2 separate regions of the Homo sapiens genome follow, and region 1 is linked to region 2. The links come from fine-mapping of genetic effects on gene expression. A gene starts in region 2. The other region holds a variant in brackets. All regions are shown on one strand. Distances are between the middles of the regions. Region 1 overlaps OSCP1 (organic solute carrier partner 1). Region 2 holds the start of CSF3R (colony stimulating factor 3 receptor).

Region 1 (2,908 bases), 58 kb after region 2:
GTCTCAGCTCAATGCAACCTCCACCTCCTGGGTTCAAGCGATTCTCCTGCCTCAGCCTCCCGAGTAGCCAGATTACAGGCACATGCCACCACACCCAGCTAATTTTTTGTATTTTTAGTAGAGACAGGGTTTCACCATGTTGGCCAGGCTGGTCTTGAACTCCTGACCTCATGATCCTCCCGCCTCAGCCTCCCAAAGTGCTGGGATTACTGGCGTGAGCCACTGTACCCAGCCGGCTTTACTTTTTATACACTGTCTGATTTAGTTGTCACAGTAACCCACCGAGTTATCTATTATTATTACTATTATTACCCCCAGGTTACCAAAGGGAAAACTGATGCACAGAAAGGTTGTGTAATTTCCCAAAAACCCAGAAGTGGCCCGTCCAGTATTTAAGCCTTCAGAGTCTAACATCAGTATGCCAAGCTGCCAGCTCACACATTCTTATCGCTTTGCATTTTCACTGCCTTGCACACAACAAATGCTTATTCTTTCCATTTTTTTTTTTTTTTTTGAGACAGAGTCTTGCTCTGTTGCCCAGGCTGGAGTGCAGTGGCATGATCTCGGCTCACTGCAACCTCCACCTCTGGGGTTCAAGCGATTCTCGTGCCTTGTCCTTGTGAGTAGCTGGGATTACAGGCATGAGCCACCACACCCTGGTAATTTTTTTATTTTTATTAAACACAGGGTTTCACCATGTTGGCCAGGCTGGTCTCGAACTCCTGACCTCAGGTGATCCACCCGCCTCAGCCTCCTAAAGTGCTAGGATTACAGGCGTAAGCCACCACACCCAGCCTAAGATACTTATTCTTGATTATATTACTAATATAACCTTATAGAATATTAGAGTTGAAAAGATCTTCAAGCTCATCTCTTATTTTACAGATAAGGAAGCCAAGACCCAGTAAAACTGATTAACTGCTACTATCTTTATGAGATTTAATCTGTGAGTGACCGAAACCTCTATACAGAGTACACGAACCCAGGAGAAGGAATAAGTGTAATGTGTTTTCAGTCACCTAAAAGATCCTCAAACTTAAATGTCAGCTGGATCCCCCTGCCCCAGCCCCATCCTTCTTTCTAGTCCAGCATGTGGATAAGGTTCGGGCTCCAAAGTCAGAATCACAGGAGTTTGAATCCTCAGCTCTGCCCCTTACCAGCTGGCTGACCTTGAGGAGGCATCTTAACCTCTGAGCTGCCTCATGTAGAAAGTGGCCATATGAGGTTCTTACAGCTCAAGGCCTGCAGCTGCATGGAAAGTAGGCAGGGAACCAAGGCATACGGGTGGAATTTGGAGTCACCTTTGGTTTTGAATCCTGGCCCTGCCTCTTAGCTCTCTTTGGGCAAGTCACTTCACTCTCTACTTTAGCTTTCTCGTCTTTAAAATGGGGGTAATAGGACTCACCTGGAAGGTTTGCTGCGCTGCTCAAAAGTAGTTCTGTTTGTAGCCGAGCACGGTGGCTCACGCCTGTAATCCCAGCACTTTGGGAGGCCGAGGCAGGCAGATCACTTGGGCTTAGGATTTTGAGCCTGGCCAACATGGCGAAAACCCATCTCTACAAAAAAATATAAAAATTAGCT[G/A]GGCACAGTGGCTCACACCTGTGGTCCCAGCTACTTGGGGGCTATGACGGGAGAATCGCGTGAGCTGGCGGGGCTGAGGTGGCAGTGAGGCAAGATCGTGCCACTGCACTCCAGCCTGGGTGACAAAGTGAGTCCCTATCTCAAAAAAAAAAATAGTTCTGTTTGTTAAAATACAGTTAACTCTGCAAGTGTAATTTTTTCTCCCTTCTTTTTTTTATTTTTTTATTTTTTTGAGATGAAGTCTTACTCTGTCGCCCAGGCTGGAGTGCAATGGCACGATCTTGGCTCACTGCAACCTCTGCCTTCCAGGTTCAAGCAATTCTCCTGCCTCAGCCTCCTGAGTAGCTGAGACTGCAGGTGCCCACCACCACGCCCGGCTAATTTTTTGTATTTTTAGTAGAGACAGGGTTTCACCGTGTTAGCCAGGATAGTCTCTATCTCCTGACCTCATGATCCGCCTGCCTCAGCCTCTCAAAGTGCTGGGATTACAGGCATGATCCACTGCGCCCAGCCTCTCCCTTCTTATTGTTATAAACTCATAGGTCATGTTCCCAAACCATTACGCACTTTCCACCCTCAGAATATTGATGTCTATGAAAATATACCAAGAAAAATGACAATAAATGTATTTTTTTCCAGGTATCCATGTTTCTAAAGGACAAAGTTCAGAATAATAACGGTCGCTTTGTGTTGCCGGTGTCCGGGCCTGTTCCTTGGGGAACTGAAGTTCCAGGACTCATCAGGTGAATTCCCAACAATGATCAGAGCTATGTTTGGGGTGCTAGGAAATCAGCACATGGGCCGCACACGGAATGCCGCACTGCCAAGCCACTCACAGTCTGCCCAGCCCTTCTCTTTCTTCAGTAAAACAGCTATTGAAAAAGTCAGGTTCTAATCCCCACCTTGTCACTTAGTAGAGGGACTTGAGGCAAGTTACCCAGTTCCCCAGGACTAATTTCCTCATCTGTTAAATGGTTACTGTGTGGATGAATAAGATAATAGTGCTCTAACGTGCTTACAAAGCAATTGGCACATACATATGCTCAATAAATATTATTATTGTATTATTATTATTATTATTACAACCAGCACCTTTATCTTGAAGGAGAGCATGTATTCCTTTTTTGTTCTGTAGTACAAAGAATAAAGAAGCCTCCAGGACTACCTAAGCTTGGAGAACATTCCATCATGTCATACTTTGTATTGTAGAATGTTCAACAACAAAGGTGAAGAAGTGAAGAGGATAGAATTCAAGCATGGTGGAAACTATGTCCCTGCACCCAAAGAAGGTTCTTTTGAACTTTATGGAGACCGAGTCCTGAAACTG
Region 2 (2,908 bases):
TTGGAAAGGTTGGGACGAGGATGGGCTGATCAGACTTCTGTTTGATTGATATCGCACTGGCTGCTGAAGGAATTACAGACAGGTGCGGGAACAAGGATGAAATAGAAGCAGGAGAGCAGGCAGGGGGCTATTGCGATTATCTAGGCAATAGATGAGGGTAGCTTGGAGCTGGCTAGTATTGGTTTCAGTTATATTTATATTTTCCAAATATTATCATAAAAATATTCAAACGTAGAGCCAAGTTGAACTTTACAGTGAATACCCAGGATTCTGGTTATATTTGGAAAGAAGAGAGTCCATGGGACTCACTGAGCGAGCAGAGCCTGTGGGATATCTTGGGAGGGTTGCAGCAGGCAGTCAGGTCATTTGACTTGGAACTAGAACTACAGCCCTGGTCTGCAGCATCACACCAGACCCAGATGCCTCAAAAGGATTATATGTTAAGGACAGTCTGCTGGTCTGTTGGCACCTAACCTTTTTTGGGTTATGAATCCAATAAACTATGAGCAGTTTGAACCTTTCTCAGAAAATGCAAAGAAAATTATTTGTAGTTTTAGAAGAATCATGAATACAGACAATAAAAGACATAAAATGTAGTCTATTTCACTCAATTACAAAATATTCAGTGTTGCAGAACCATTGTGGGTAAACATTCCTAATTTTTAGTGAACATATAAAGACCCCGTGCCTCACCAAGACGTCCTCCTGTCTTGCCCCCAGAATTCCTGTTTCTCCATCTGCCTGGTCTATGGGCAATGCACAGAATACGTAATGAAGAGGGGAGCAGTGAGTATTGGGTTACACAATTCCCTGGAACCTGGAACACACCCTTCTGAGTACTGTGAAGATGTGGTCCCCAAGGCTAGAGCTGAAAAGAGGCTTAGGGCCGGGTGAGCCTTCCAGCCAGGGCCTGCCTCCAAGTGATGCTCCCCCAGGGCAGGGGGCATAAGGATGGCACCCAGCCAGGTGGGAGCCTGGGCCCTGCCCAGCCTCAAAGCTTTGAGCTCAGGAAATCCGGAGGCAGGGGAGGGGGACATCGTTGCCACATTCCCCAGCCCTTTAAGACCCCCAAGGCAGGAAGGCTGCCCGGGCCTCACCAGCTTCCCTCACAGGCTCCTTCCTGGGAGGAAGGGGCTGCCTGTGCCCTCGAAGGCGCAAGGGAGGGCAGGAGGGAGGCTCGGAAGGTGTTGCAATCCCCAGCCCCCGGGCCTGTCAGAGGCTGAGCCATTAACGACAGAGCTCGGGGAGAGAAGCTGGACTGCAGCTGGTTTCAGGAACTTCTCTTGACGAGAAGAGAGACCAAGGAGGCCAAGCAGGGGCTGGGCCAGAGGTGCCAACGTGAGTAGGGGATCCCTAGAGAGGGGCTGAGCCTTGGGCTTGATGGAGAGCTGGAATCCTGGGGCCACTCCCCACAGCTCTGCCAAGTGTTCATGTCCGGGGTCCTAGGCCTGGGGCCCGGGATTCGTCCTTTGGAACCCCAGCCCTGGACACTGAGTCTCTTTTCACAGGATGCCCCTACTTTTGGGGGTATTGCACCAGGGAAGTCACTCACAGCCAAGTATCTCCTTGGGGACACTGAGCTGGGCTGGGGACAGGCATAATCATTCTCCCCTCCCCATGCCTCTGTCTCTCAGGACGTGTGTGTCTGTGAGTTCCAGCCGCGCAACCCCTCCCCGTCTGGGTCTCTATTTCACTCTCTGTTTCCATCTTTCCTCCTCAGCTTCTCTCTGGCTTGCTATCTCTCTGAGTTTCTCTGTCTCGCATATTTCCTGCTATCTCTTGAATCTTAAACTCTCGGTAACAGACGCTTCCCGGGCTCCAGGCCTCCGAGTGCCCCCCCCCCGCCCACTCTCTGGGTCGGCGTACATTGGGCCCTTTTTCTCTGTCTCTCGATATCTCTCTGGCCTCAATCGTCCTCTTGGCGAGTCTCTCTGTCGTTTCAGTCTGTGTGGATTTCAGTCACCGCCTCACTCTGTCACTCTTCCTGTTGCTCTCTCTTTTTCTTTATCTGCAGCATATCTGGAAATGCCTCTCCCCTCTGTTTATTCCCAGCCCCCTCCTCCCTCCCCACCCTTCCCACAGAAAGAATCTCGAGGTGAGAGTAGAAACAGCAAGGGAGCGAGGGGTGTGAAGTGGGGAAGAGAGTGTGAGGGGAGAGGGCTGAGCGTGATGAGGGAGAAACAGAAAGAGGGAATGTGAAGGCAGCCAGCCCAGGAGACATCGAGCTGTGCTGGGCCACAGGAGTGAGCACCTGCAGAGCCCAGCAGAGATGGCCGCAGTGACAGGAGGGCCAGGGGGCCCAGGAGTTAGGAGGAGAGGATCCAGAAAGGGGGCTTTGGAACTGCGCAGTGTGGCACAGACAAAAGCAAGGTGGCAGTCCTGGGAGGTGTGACCACACAGGCTGTGAGGGAGGCAGGGGTGAGGGGAAAACTGAACTGTGCTGGATTCTGTGAGCTGCTGACCTGCTATTTATGGCTCGTGAAAATAACCTATGGTTGCTGAGTGCCAACTCCATGCAAGGCACAGGGCTAAATGCCTTTACCAAAATAATCTCATTTCATCCTCACAACAACGCTGAGGAGTGAGTGCTAATGTTATTTCTTTCCCACAGATGGGGAAACTGAGGCTCGGCTCGGAAAGGTGAAGTAACTTGTCCAAGATCACAAAGCTGGTAAGTGGCGGAGCTGGAGATCAAGTCAGGTGACCTGAATCTGAGCTGGGCTCCAAACCTCTCTGCATATCGGCCCCCCAGAGAGTGAGACCATGCTCCAACAGGTCCTAGGCCCACTTAACCAGGCTGGGGGACGTCCAGGGCTGCAGTGGAGGACCAGAGACTGAGGCCAAGCAGGCCAACACCCAGCACCCAGGGGAAGGATGCCGGGGCCTCTTGGGGTTAGGTTGTCTACTC

The links.
Region 1: its variant is fine-mapped to the expression of CSF3R in whole blood (TOPMed, PIP 0.98).

Annotation. Positions count from the first base shown.
Region 1 is chr1:36,422,779-36,425,686 of GRCh38, reverse strand. It overlaps OSCP1 (organic solute carrier partner 1), which reads left to right. Exons shown (of 10, transcript NM_145047.5): 5 at 2,221-2,324; 6 at 2,791-2,908. Among named protein-coding and RNA genes, the nearest start is that of SNORA63C, 5.7 kb to the right of the region's middle. The variant G/A (reference allele first, on the strand shown) is at 1,582.
Region 2 is chr1:36,481,241-36,484,148 of GRCh38, reverse strand. It overlaps CSF3R (colony stimulating factor 3 receptor), which reads left to right and starts at 1,236. Exons shown (of 17, transcript NM_000760.4): 1 at 1,236-1,338; 2 at 2,612-2,671. RefSeq lists an enhancer at 2,548-2,908.